4 linked regions of the Homo sapiens genome follow. The protein of the gene in region 1 purifies or fractionates together with the protein of each later gene. This does not show direct contact. Each region holds a gene or a part of one and is shown in the gene's direction. Other genes may lie near its edges.

Region 1 (3,500 bases):
CTATGAATAGAACATATGGCTGTATTTCATAATTTATTTACTATTTAAATATGAGGCAGATAGTAATAATTATGATTATGCAGAAATATGTTTGGAAATTAAGAGGAAGTGGTATATAAATTCTAGTGTCATATATAGTATTTAATTTAAAAATGAATGTTATTTAAGTTGATCTTAAGTCTGAGATGATATTAATATACTTTGTTTCATGCTTATTTTATAAATGATCTGTCTAGTTTGGAAGCTACTGGGTTCCAACCTGTTACTCTTTTTGCTATTCTTTAATCTCCTATCAATCATTTAACTACCCTTCACTGTCCCTTCGCCCACCATTAGGATATAAATGGTAGATAATTTCAGGGTATTGATGGGATATTTCATCTCTCTAAATAATTATCATTAAGTAAGATAAGTATTAATATTTAAATTTGCAGGTATGTCTTGAAAAAATGGAAGATATTCAGCTAGCCATGGTTATTGCCCGTTTATATGAATCTGAATTTGAGACTTCATCCACTTATATATCCATCCTAAATCAGAAGATTTTGGGTTGCCAAAAGGATGGCTCAGGATTCAGTTGCAAAAGATTACATCCTGATCCTTTCCTGCGTAGTCTTGCCTATTGGGTAATGAAAGATTACACCCGAGCCTTGGACACATTACTGGAACAAACACCAAAGGAGGATGATGAACATCAAGGTAGGACGTTTTGTGGATTTCTTTTTTTTCTTTTTTAAAGGAAGAGATACTTTCTGAACTAATGTTCACTTAGATTAAGAAAAATCATTACCAGATTTGCTTTTCAACTTTGAGAATTTATTATTAAAATTTCTTGTGTGTCTAAAGGATTAGATAGGATTACCATCCTATTCTAATTACGTATATATTTAACAAGCATACAAAATGTTTGCCACATTCTGTAGCTCTTTTTACATAATCATATAGCCATTTTTTTTAAATGGAAATTTTGGCTGTTACACGTATTGGTTTGTCACATGGGCCTGGAAAAACTTTATGCCTCTGTGGTAAATTTTCTTTTTTCCTTGTTATCCTAAATAATTTAGATATTACAAGCACTTAAAGGATATTTATCAGCATTGTTTTCAATAATTTGAAAGGAATGGAACATTTTAAGTTTTTGTCAATAGAATAGTTAAATACGTTTTAATATATCCACATATAGAAACAGTGTGTCATTAAAAATTGAGGTAGATACATATGTTAATATGTGCTGTATTTTTAAGTGAAAAAAAGTAAGATGCACAGCAGTGTGGTTCTTGTTGCATTTGGCATATGTATGTTGTACAAACATGCACCTGAATGTGCACACATGTTATGTCTGCCTCCTCCATTTCCTTTGGTTGTTTCCTGAAACAAATCATAAGAAATGAAATACTGGTCATTGGTCACTGGCTACCTTTTGGGAATAAAAATGAGGAGATCCTTGTCTTTGACTTTTGACAACTTGACCATGTGCCTTGGAGAGGATCTTTTTAGGTTGAATCTATTTGGGAGTATTTGAACACCCTGGACCTAGATGCCTATCTCTTTCCCAAGACTTGGGAATTTTGGGCTGTTACTTTATTAAATGTGTTTTCCTCACCTTTTCCCTTTTCTTCTTCTTCTGGAATGCCCATAATATGAATATTTGTTTACTTAATAGTGTCCCATAAATCCTGTAGGCTTTCTTCATTCTTTTTTTTCTGTTCCTCCTTCTTCCTTTTTTTTTTTTTTTTTGGTTTGCCTGAGTTATTTCAAAAGACCTGTTTTCAAGTTCAGAAATTCTTTCTTCTGCTCGATCTAGTCTGTTGTTGAAGCTCTTGATTATATTTTTTATTTCATTCATTGAATTTTTTAGCTCTAGTATTTCTGTTTGGTTCTTTTGTATGATATCTATCTCCTTGGTGAATTTCAAATTCACATCATGTATTCTTTGCCTGATTTCATTTAGTTGTATATCTGTATTCTTTTGTATCTGAATGAGTTTCCTTAAGACTATGATTTCCTTAAGAATTATTTTTCTGGCATTTCATGTTTCCTTGTGACTAAGGTCTGTTACTGGAGAATTAGTATTTTCCTTTCCATTCTTTTCCTTTGGTGTCATATTTCCTTGCTTTCTCATGGTTGGTGTGTTTCTACATTGATTTCTATGTATCTGGCAGAAAAAGTTGCCTCTTCTAATTTTATGGAGTAGGTTTCATAGGGAAAGACTTGTTACTATGAATAGGTCCTGAGGTGTTGGTTTGGTGGAGTGCATTGGTTAGATGGATACAGTAGTGTAGTCTCCATGTAGCTTCTTCACCTGTAATCCACATTAGTGGCATTTGCAATCCTCTCAGTTGCCTAGGCTGAAAGAGTTTGCGGTGATGGCCATGTAGCTTTGCCAGGTGGGCTCGCTGGGCAGTTTTTCAGGTTGGGGTGCATATGTGCACACAATGGGTCAGCCAGCTTAGGGTCTGGTTGGCTGGGATTGGGGCCACAGGTCTGTTACTCTGGCCAGGAGTGTGGGTACATGGTCACTTGGCCAGCCTGGAGGTGTGCCTGCCAGAAGCAGCCCACAGGGCTCATATGTGGCCTCACGGCTACTCAGCTGGCCTGGGGTTTTGTCTGTTAGGGGTGGGGATAAGGCTATTTCTCAGGCCCATGACACGATTGCATGGCTGCTCAGCTGGCCTGGGGGTGTTTCTGCAGGTGTTGCCCATGGGTTATTTGTATACCTGTGATGCAGGTGCAGGGCTGCTCAGCTGGTCTGGTACTATGTTAGCTGGGGTGGCAGTGAGGCTGCTCCTCAGGCCTGAGGTGTGGGCATAAGGCTGCTCAGCTGGCATGGGGGCGTTTCTGTTAGGGGCTCATGGGGCTATTTCTCAGGTCTGAGACTGGTGCAAGGCTGTTCAGCTGGCTAAGGGGTGTGCACACTGGGAGCAGCCTGCAGGGCTGTTTGACCAGGCTGGGATGTGTCCACCAGGGATAGCCCACAGGGCCGTGGAAGTGGGCTCTTGGCTGCTTGGCTGGCCTGGTGGTGTGCTGCCAGGGGCGGCTCGAAGGACTATTTCTCAGGCGTTGATTGCAGGCGCAGGGCCTTTGGCAGGCCAGAACTCTGAGTGCAGGGAGCAGGGGCGCTGCACGCTGTTTCTGAGGTCCTGAGTGTGGGCATGTAGCTGCTTTGCTGGCCTGGGGGCATATCAGCTGCTCGTAGGCTTGGAGACCTCTCCCATTTGGGGGAGGGTATGTATGTAGTGGTTTGGCTGGCTCAAGGGCAGGTTCACCCTGGGCAAGACTGCCAGATTGTTTCTCTGACCAAAAGTGTGATGGTAGGGGTTGATTTCCCTGCCATGCAGGACCAAAGTCATAGCCAGTCATGGTCCTAGGCTCTGCATAGCTGGGATTGTAGCATTCAGCTACCCATGTAGGCTTGGAATGAAGACGGGTCCCCAGTGTTGGAGAGGTACAGTGACTCCTGGCCCCCAGAGCAGTGCGCATGCCAGAGGTGACTGGTCTCA
Region 2 (3,500 bases), on another chromosome or scaffold:
AATTTACAATGTTTCTTTAGTTAAATGTTTATTTATTAAAGACTCTGTTTCACCATACAAGTCCTCATTTGCTGTTGTATGTAGACACCTGTTAAATCCTGCTTGGAAGTTTTTACTGTGTAGTTTGCTATAAATCAGTCAGGCAGGCGAAGTAGAAGATTGGCAAAGCTTTTAACATAGACTGAGCCATTGGAAACAAGGCCTGAGCCACCAAAGCTAGAACAGGATGCACTCCCCACTGCTGCCTTGTGTGGTATGCCTTTAAAGTTTGGGTTCCAAATTAGCTGTTTTGGTTTCTGTCACAGGACAACCAATTGAAAACAGCTCAACCTTTCAGGATAGAGGATGGAGCTAACCTGTAGAGAACTAAATGATGGTTGTTATGCAAAGGTAGGATTTTTAACATCACATATGAATAGTCTTCGGAATATTTCCTGTTGTTTTCATCCAGATTTGTCATTACTGCTAGTTTTTGAGGTTAGGAAAAGAGAGCTGTCACCTTCATGGGGCTTAAAAAAATACAATGTGGAGATTTTCAGTCAGTTTTCAGTCAGAGGAAGGAATACCGGCTGTCCGTCTAGTTTGAATTCTTCATGATGGTATCCTTAGCCATGATCCATTGCTCTTGTTTTGATTATTTGTATTTTAAAGAGCAGATTGATGCAATGGGCTAGTGAGGGCATTCTACCCTATTTTGAGAGTTTGAGAGCTTCACTTTTTTAAACTAAGAATGATAGTGAGTTTAAAAAATATTAGTTGTATTTCAAAATTAACCTTAGGTGTGCTTGAAATTTTCTTATGTACTTCAGTAACAACATACTGGGATTGCAAATATTGTACTTTTGTATACTGTAAAGGGGGAGTTGAAAATACATTAAATAGTAAAAAAAAAAAAAAAAAGACTTGGAATCTAGAAATCCTAGTTTGTATAATGGATTGTAAGAACTTCAGAAGGATGAAGGAGTTGGGCCCTATGCTCTGTAAATATGTTGATTTTTTGCTATTTATTGATAGCTTATTATGTGCGGAATTTTACATAGTCTGGATCTTCATAGACTTCCTCCTTGAATCTCCTGTGTGCACTTGAACGTTTGTATTGCCTGATTTTACAGATGATGACATTGAAGTGCAGTGAGGTCTAGTAGTCTTTCCAAGGCCCTAAGTTTCACGTATGTCCCAGCAGATAAAGTTGCAAATTGATGTAACTGTCAGCCTGGGGGACATGGGAACCCACCAGGGCCCTTGAAGAAGGAGACCTTGGCCTTTGTACCTCCTATCAATGCTACCCCTCTCCAGCTTTCAGCCTAGAGTTTAAGAGCAAACAGGACATCTTATTCTGAATAAATGGTACTACTAATACAAAGTTATTTGAAAATATGTGTTCTTTCCAGAACAGGCATTTCTTCATTAGCAATTGATTTAGAGACTCTGATGGTAAGAATAAATGCATTTGTTTTTACCTAGTTTGTGAGAAAATATGCAGAGATGACTTGGGGGACCACATTTTCCAGATAGCCCTTTCTAGCAGAGTTTGTGAGGTCATGGAGAAAACTACTGTCACCTACGTGTCTCTGGCTTTATTAGTCAGTTAAAGCAAATATAGTTGCATTTACAGAAATACCCCCAAAATGAGTGACCCACTCAGAATGCTCTGCCACCTAGTGTTTACTGGGTGCCTGCTCTGTAGGATGCAACTGCGTGTCATTTCATTTAATCCTTATGAAGCACTATGGGGAGGTAATATGTTCCCGTAATACAACAGAAGACACTGAGGTTCAGGGTGGTAGACTCACTTGTCCAAGGTTATCAAGCTGCCAAGTGGCAGCACCAGAATGACCCCAGTTGATTTTTCTGAAGAGCCAGAGATCTTAACTCCAGTGGAATGAACCAGGGAGGGCCATGGTAGAGAAAAGTCGTGCTGGACCTTGAAGAATTGGAAGGAATATTTTAATTAGAGAGGCCGGGGTCTGGGGAAGAGAGAAGACAGAGAGGGAAGGGTGTCCTGGGGGTACTGATGGCTTAAAGAAGGGCACAGTGGAGGTGTAAAGTTCATGTAAGAGGCAGAGCCTGGCCTTCTCTGACTAGGGCACTGGATTTGGATAAGATGTGGTTCTCACCCTGGGCTCTGAGGCCCCCTACACCCACAGAGGTGGCCTGAGAGGCAGCCTCCCAGGAAAGGAAGACACTGTGAGAGTGAGACTCTCTCCCTGCATGCACCAGCAAAGGGGCTCAGCTTATGATACTTTAGAGTTTCAGGAAAAGCTTTAGTACAGTAGATTCTGTGCTTGAAAAAGGAGTTGCAGCTCACTAGGGCAGCAGAATGTCAGAAATAAACCCGAAAAGTTATTGATGTGCCTAATGGAATTTTGACTTCTGTCTGTAATGCAGACCAGGGGACATCTCTGACTAGTTTTTAGAGAGACACACAAAATAAAACCAGATTTTTCTTTCACCACCTAAAAGATTACACTAGCTGCAGTCTTTTAGGAGAGTAAGAGTTTGCAGGCAAGGTAAGCAAATAGGCATCTGTAGATTGGAACCTTTACACACTGCTAGCAGGAGGATTAATTGGTATCTCTATTATTTTAGTCAGGCTTCTCCAGAGAAAGAGAACCAATGTGTATATACATGGAGATTTATTATAAGAAATTGGCTCACATGATGTATTAGTCTATTCTCACACTGCTGTGAAGAAATACTTAAGACTGGGTAATTTATAAGGGAAAGAGGTTTAATTGACTCACAGTTCAGTATGGCTGGGGAGGCCTCAGGAAACGTACAATCATGGTGAAAAGGGGAGCAAACATGTCCTTCTTCACATGGCAGCAGGAAGGAGAAGTGCAGAGTGAGGTGGGGGAAAAGCCCCTTATAAAACCATCAGATTTTGTGAGAATTCACTCACTGTCACCAGAACAGCATGAAGGTGACTGGCCCCATGATTCAGCTACCTCCCACCGGGTCCTTCCCACAATACATGGGGATTATGGGAACTACAAGATGAGATTTGGGTGGGGAAACAGCCAAATTATATCATTTTGCCCCTGGCCCCTCTGAAATCTCATGCCCTCACATTTCAAAATACAACCATACCCTCCCAACAGTCCCCCAAAGTCTTAACTCTTTCCAGCATTAACTGAAAGTCCACAGCCCAAAGTCTCATCTGAGACAAGGCAAGTACCTTCCGCCTATGAGCCTGTAAAATCAAAAGCAAGTTAGTTACTTCCTAGATAAAAGAGGGGTACAGGCATTGGATAAATACACCAATTCTAAATGAGAGAAATTGGCCAAAACAAAGGGGCTACTAGCTCCATGCAAGTCTGAAATCCTGTAGGGCAGTCATTAAAACTTCAAGTTCCAAAAATGATCTCCTTTGACTCCATGTCCCACATCCTGGGCATGCTGATGCAAGAGGTGGGCACCCATGGTCTTGGGCAGCTCCACCCCTCTGGCTATGCAGGGTACAGCCTCCCCTCTTGGCTGCTTTCACAGGCTGGTGTTGA
Region 3 (3,500 bases), on another chromosome or scaffold:
TTACAGGCATGAGCCACCGTGTCAGGCCCCGCACCTGGCCTTTTCTTTTGTGCTTCGAGGGCTTTAAACTGGAGATTTTGCCTGATTCTAAGGGGCAGGAGTGGAGTCGTGGAGAGGGAGATAGAAGAATAGATTCGTAAGAGATGTTTTTCACTTGTCTCTTGGAGGTGAGTTTTTAATGAAAATGTCTAGAAACCTTAAAACCTTAAACACTGATGCTGTGAACCTGACAAAGTGCTTGGGAAAGCTGTCCCCTCTCCCTCCCAATTCAGGGATGGCTTCTCTTCTAAGCTCTGGTCTTGAGCTCTCTTGCCCTCCTCCTTAATCCTACAGAGACTTGTTGATTATCATGGTATCCTTTCCGTCCTTCTTCCCTTCTCAGTGGTATAATTTTCCCCATTTGACAGGTGAGACCACTGGTGAAGTGAGGTTGAGGTTGCTGGCTACCAGGCTGCTGATTATAATCAGCACCTATCCCTGTGGTGGACTGCCTGCCCTTCCTGCTGTGTTCTGCCATTTGCAGCCCAAGTCAGTGGACTTCAGCCAGAGTGCCAGAGAGAGCTCTGACACCACCTTCACTGTTCCCTCTTTTCTCTCAGCAGACTCTAAGCCGTATTTCCTCTTCCTTTGGGAAGTGGTTAAGACTATGGGCTTTGGAACTAGACCAACTTGGATTTTACTCCTGCCATATCTTTCCCTGGCTTTATGGCCATGGAAAATATTGTGGGTTGAATTGTGTTTCCTTAAAAAAGATATGTTGAAGTCCTAACCCCAGGTACCTCAGATTGTGACCTTGTTTGGAAATGGGGTCATTGCAGGTGTAATTAGTGAAGATGAGGTCATACAGGAGTAGGGTGGGCCCCTAATCCAACATGGCTGGTGTCCTTCAAGACGATGACCATGTGAAGACACAGAGAGAGCACACCTTGTAAAGATGGCAGCGGAGAGTGGAGATTGGATGCCTCTACGAGCCAACGAACTCCAAGGATTGCTGGCTGTCACCAGAAGCCAGGAGAGAGGCATGGAACAGATTTCCTCACCACTCGTAGAAGAAGGAGCCAACCCTGCCAACACCTCAATTTCAGACTTCTAGCCTCCAGAACTGTGAGAGAAGACATTTCCGTTGTTTTAAGCTGTTCGGTTTGTGGTACTTGCTACAGTAGTCCTAGGAACACAGAGAGCAGAAAGTTTATTGAGCTTTCTGAGCTTCGGTGTCCTCATCTGTAAAATTGCTGTAACACACTCTATGTCATGTGGTTTTTGGTGACAATTAAGTGACAAGCAGCTTCTGCTTTCTTATTCTAGTGTAGAAAAGCAAGGCTGACATAGCTGACTTGTCTTTGCTCTCTTTGCTTCTCCCTTTAGCTGAGTGAGGAGTTGGTCCAGGTGGTTGAGAACTCAGAGCTGGCAGACGAGCAGGACAAGGAGACGGTCAGAGTCCAAGGTCCGGGTATCTTACCAGGTGAGTGCGTTTGGTGCTTTGCTGTGCTGTTGCTGCAGCTGGACACCCCAGTCTAGGCGCCTTGCCAACTGTGGGAGAGGAGGAGCCCCCTTCCCTGCACCCTGGTGTCAGGTCTCAAGTATTGCCCTAGTTTTAAAGCCATACATATTTAACCAGCCTTGGAACAGAGGATATGTCTAGGCTGGTATCTGCTCTTAACTCCAATTTGAGCCACTTCCTGAGGTCAGGTCATTGCATACAATGGCAAATGCTTTGGATCTCTGCTCTTCTGTTCCTCTTTCCCTGGAAACTGCTAGCAGGTGAGCCTCTAATATCCGGGTCAAAGAAGATCTAATAGGCCCCCTCTTTCAGATACTAGGCCTGTCCAGTAATGCTGCTCAGTTGGGTAAGCAGGGTCCCATCAGTCAGTTGGCATCTTATGGAGCCCTACGGCAATGTTTGACACTGCTGACTACTTCTTCCGCCCGGATACACGCTGCTCCCTTAGCTTCTGTGATGCAGCATTTCTCAGGCCACTCCTTCCAGGCTCCATTGCGGTCACTCTCCAGCTCTTGGGCATGAAATGTTGGTTGCAGGCCCCTTTCTCTCACTCTCATAGACAGTTCTACCCAGGCCTGCTCCCTTGCTTCAGCCACTGCTTGCTCACACGTGACTCCCATGTTTACATCTCTAGCCCAGAGGTTACCTACAAACCGCAAATTTATATATCCTGTATTTCCAACTGCCCATGTCATAGTTCTGCTTGGATCTCCCAAAGCTTCCCTCAACTCCACATGTCCAAAATTGACCTCATGATCATCTCAGTCCCAGCTTGGTCCTCTCCCAGTATTTCCTGTTTGCAGGAATGGTACTACCACTTAACGCAGTTGAACTTCAGAGTAGTTCTCCATTCCTTCCTTCCTCTCATCCCCTTTTTCTCTGGCCCTCAGCCATGCTGATCTTTTTTTATTTTAGGCCTCATTCCCTCTCACCACAGGGCCTTTTTGTTGTTTTATTTCTCTGCCTGGAATTCACTTTCCTTCTTCACATAGTTAATGCCTAATCATTCTTCAGCTTTCAGCTCACTCATTTTTTTCCACAGAGCCTTCTCTAACCTTCTGGCCAGATTACCTCCCACCCTCCAGCACCGTCTCATAGTCCACGCGCCTCTCCTTTCCGGCTATTGCTGTTGGAATGGTGCGTTTGTTTGTCTGACTAATGTCTGTCTGTTCTACTACAGCAGTCCCCAACTTTTTGGCACCAGGGACCGGTTTGTGGAAGACAATTTTTCCACAGATGGAGGTTGGGGGATGGTTTCAAGATGAAACTGTTCCACCTCAGATTATCAGACATAGTTAGATTTTCATAAGGAGCACACAACCTAGATCCCTTGTATGTGCAGCTTACAATAGGATTTGCACTCCTATGAGAATCTAATGCTGCAGCTGATCTGACAGGAGGTGGAGCTCAGGTGGTAATGCTCACTCACTGCTCACCTCCTACTGTATTGGCCCAGTTCCTAACAGGCCATGGACCCGTATTGGTCTGTGGCCTGGGGGTTGGGGACCCCTGTTCTACTAGAATGAAACTCCCTGAGGGCAGAGACCAGTCTGTTTTGCTCACCAGCCTAGCCTTGACCACGCCATAAAGATTTGTTGAGTGAATGAATGAAGCCCCAGCCTGACTTCAACTTCTTGGATGGATCCCATCTGTTTGTGGGAGAGGGGAACAAGACAGGAACTAATGTGGTTCTGCCTGCTCCTTACAGAAGACTGCATGGAAGGGACCGGGCACGGTGGCTCATGCCTGTAATGCCAGCACTTTGGGAGGCTGAGGCAGGTGGATCACCTGAGGTCAGGAGTTCAAGACCAGCCTGGCCAACATGGTGAAACCCTGTCTCTACTAAAAAATACAAAAATTAGCCAGGTGTGGTGGCACATGCCTGTAATCTCAGCTACTTGGGAGGCTGAGGCAGGAGAATCGCTTGAACCCAGGAGGCGGAGGTTACAGTGAGACGAGATCATGCCACTGCACTCTAGCCTGGGTGACAAGAGTGAGA
Region 4 (3,500 bases), on another chromosome or scaffold:
TATTGGAAAAGCTGGTACAGTTGAGGAGGAGAAGTCAGGGAATACAGGAATAGAGATGTGACTAATTGAATGGCCATTGGACTGAAAGTCAAGCAATCCTATATTTTAGACCTGATTGTGCCAGGAACTTCAAGGGATTTGAGAGGAAGTCATTTAACCTCTCTGAGTCACAGTTTTAATATTACAAAACAAGAGAGCTGAATGAGATCTGGTTTCACATTTAACATCGTGTCATTCTGTGATATGAGAAAGGCTAGGCAGAGACAATGGGGAAAAAATTGCATTCTCACAATCTTCCCAGCTCTCTCCATCTACCTTGTTTATGTATGAACTCCTAGCAAGATTTTGGTATTCAACAACATATGCAAGAAGAGCATCAGGCGTTTTCATCCCAACTGGTTTTCTAATTCTTTCCTTGTATATTGAAAGTAATTTTACAAATTAAAATGTTGTGCTAAGTCACAAAAGTTCAGAGAGAAAATGATAACTTTCACATATGAAAAGACACCAGGATTGAAAATGTGTATACCTTTATTTATTTATTCATTCACCCATCCATTTGTTTAATCAACCATATTTATTGAGTACATACTATGTTTCAGGCATCTTCTAGTTCCTGGTGTATATATGTATATATATATGTATATATACATATATACATATATATATACACATATATACATATATATATATACACGCATATATGTTGGGCATCCCTAATCTGAAAATTTGAGTGGAAGTGCTCCAAAACTCCAAATTTTTGAGCACAAACATGAAACAAGTAGAAAATTTCCTACTTGACCTCATGTGATGGGTCACAGTCAAAATGCAGGTACACAATGCACAGTTTACTCAGAATTAACAAGAGAAAAAAGAATTTCCCAGCCCCTTTCGGCTGTGATATATCTTTTTCTTGAACACCCAGTTTTTCCCATGAAAGCAAGTCCACAAAGGGTAAAAAATGGCACCTGTGCAGGATGAATGAGCCTATAGCAGATTTGCCACTCTGCCTCCATGGGGCCAAGATTTGTGTGTATTTCTCTGTGTGTGTCTTTTTTTGTTTTTTGGGGTTTTTTTTTATTTTGTTTTTGTTTTGCTTTTTCTCTACTCTGTGATGTAAATATACTGTTGAAAATATCAAAAAGGTCTGCAGATACTTATGGGTAACAGTGATAAGAAAAAAAAAGGAAGCATTTATGTATACTTATAACACAGAAAGTCAAGCTTTTGGATAAATTGGACAGTGGTATAGGTATAAAATGTCTGATAGAAGAGTATGGTGTTGAGGCCAGGCGCAGTGGCTCATGCCTGTAATTCCAGCACTTTGGGAAGCTGAGGCAGGTGGATCACCTGAGGTTGGGAGTTTGAGACCAGCCTGGCCAACAAGGTGAAACCCTGTCTCTACTAAAAACAGAAAAATTAGCTGGGTGTGGAGGCATGTGCCTGTAATCCCAGCTACTTGGGAGGCTGAGGCAGGAAAATTGCTTGAACCTGGGAGGCAGAGGTTGTAGTGAGCTGAGATCACATCACTGCACTCCAGCCTGGGCAACAGAGTGAGTCTCCATCTCAAAAAAGTAACAATAAAAAAAGAGTATGGTGTTGAAATGACCACCATATATGACTCAAAGAAATAGAAGGATAAACTGTTTAAGTCCTATGCTGAAGTTAATGAAAAATGTAAAAAAACATTCCACAAAGCTACAAATGAAGATCCCAATTGTGTATTGAGAAAGTGGATCCATCAGTATCACAAAGAACACATGCCACTTAATGGTATGCTGATCATGAAACAGGAAAAGATCTATCACGATGAACTGAAAATTTAAAAGAACTGCGAATATGCGTAGTTCTTTGGCATAAATTTAAGAAAAAACATGGCATTAAATTTTCAAATATTTGTAGTGACGAAACATCTGCTGATCAGAAAGCAGCAGAGAAATTTATTGATGAGTTTGCCAAGATCATCACTGATAAAAATTCTCACACTAGATCAAGTCTATAGTGCTGATGAAACATCACTGTTTTGGCATTATTGCTTCAGAAAGACACTGACTTCAGCCGATGAGACAGGCCTTGTGGGCAATCAGGATACCAAGGACAGGATAATTGCGCTGGGATGTGCTAATGCAGCAGGCACACACAAATGTAAACCTGCTGTAATAGGCAAAAGCTTGAATTCTCACTATTTTCAAAGAGTAAATTTCTTACTAGTCCATTATCATGCTAACAAAAGGCATGGGTCACCAGGGACATCTTTTGTGATTGTTTTCACAACATTTTGTAGCAATGGCTCATGCTCACTGCAGGGAAGCTGGACTGGATGAAGGCTGCAAGATTTTGTTATTCCTTGACAACTTTTATGCTTATTCTTCAGCTAAAATTCTCATCAAAAGTAATACTTATTCCATGTGCTTTTCCCCAAATGTGACTTTATTAATTTAGCCATGTGAGAATGGTGTCCTTAGATCAATCAGTGTAAATATAAAACATTTTCGTAAACAGTATGTTATCAGCAGTGAACATAGGTGTGGGTGTTTCGCATAAAGGATGTTGTATATGCTGTTGCCAATGCTTGTAATGCAGTAACTAAAGACAGTTGTGCATACCTGGCATAACCTCTGTCCTGCAACTATGTTCAGTAAGTATTATAAATAAAGTGACTTTGAATGATTCTGTATGTCAAATGAGAAAAAAAAAAGATGTCTGACCATACATACGCAAAAAAAAGTACCTTCAGAGTCCACCAGTAAGTTGGAAGAAGTTGATATTGAAGAAATTTTTAACACTGATAATGAGGCTCCAGTTGTTCATTTATTAACCAATGGTGAAATAGCTGAAATGGTTCTGAATCAAGATGATTGTGATAATAGCAATAATGACGATGGTGGTTAACACTGTAAAGACTTTGTCAGGGGCCAGATCAGGCAGGTCTTGTAGGCCAAGGTGAAAAATTTAGATTTTATGCAAAACACAATGGAAAGCGGGTAAAGGATCTTAAGAGAGGAATAATATGACCATTAGGGTTTAAAAAGGCCACTCTGGTAGCATGGGAGAATAAATTTGAGAGATGCCAGAGGGAAAGCTGGATCTTGGAAGGAAGCTGTTACAGTAGTTTATGGAGTGATAATGATGGTTGCATTAGACTAATGGGTGAATTTTAGATAAATTTTTAACTAAAAGATTTCCTGGTTTGTAGGTTGGCAGTGAAGGAAAGTAAGAAATTAAAGTTGATACTCAGTATTCTGCCTTAGGCCAGCCAGTGGATGGTGGTGCTGATGAGATGGGAACACTCAGAGAGGGGCAGAAGGAAAGACACATTTCAGGGTTCTATTTGGACATGGTACTTTAGCGATATCCATGAGACATCTAGGTGGGGATGGAAGATGAATACAGGAAATGTACCTTTAAGGAGAGGCTCGGGCAAGAGATAATAATTTAGGAGTTGTCTGCATATACATGGTATTTAACGCCAAGAGAAGGGATGAGTTTAGACATGGAAA

What was found.
Region 2: the proteins of DMXL2 (region 1) and CD226 purify together in Homo sapiens (co-immunoprecipitation; one large-scale study listed by IntAct). This does not show direct contact.
Region 3: the proteins of DMXL2 (region 1) and PACC1 purify together in Homo sapiens (co-immunoprecipitation; one large-scale study listed by IntAct). This does not show direct contact.
Region 4: the proteins of DMXL2 (region 1) and ANKRD22 purify together in Homo sapiens (co-immunoprecipitation; one large-scale study listed by IntAct). This does not show direct contact.

The regions. Positions count from the first base shown.
Region 1 is NC_000015.10:51,483,272-51,486,771, reverse strand, and holds part of DMXL2 (dmX-like protein 2), read left to right. Parts: intron 1-434; coding exon 435-699; intron 700-3,500. UniProt on the Homo sapiens protein: May serve as a scaffold protein for MADD and RAB3GA on synaptic vesicles. Plays a role in the brain as a key controller of neuronal and endocrine homeostatic processes.
Region 2 is NC_000018.10:69,941,374-69,944,873, reverse strand, and holds part of CD226 (CD226 antigen isoform a precursor), read left to right. Parts: intron 1-3,500.
Region 3 is NC_000001.11:212,408,387-212,411,886, reverse strand, and holds part of PACC1 (proton-activated chloride channel), read left to right. Parts: intron 1-1,365; coding exon 1,366-1,462; intron 1,463-3,500. UniProt on the Homo sapiens protein: Chloride channel gated by pH that facilitates the entry of chloride ions into cells upon exposure to extracellular acidic pH. Involved in acidosis-induced cell death by mediating chloride influx and subsequent cell swelling.
Region 4 is NC_000010.11:88,845,345-88,848,844, reverse strand, and holds part of ANKRD22 (ankyrin repeat domain-containing protein 22), read left to right. Parts: intron 1-3,500.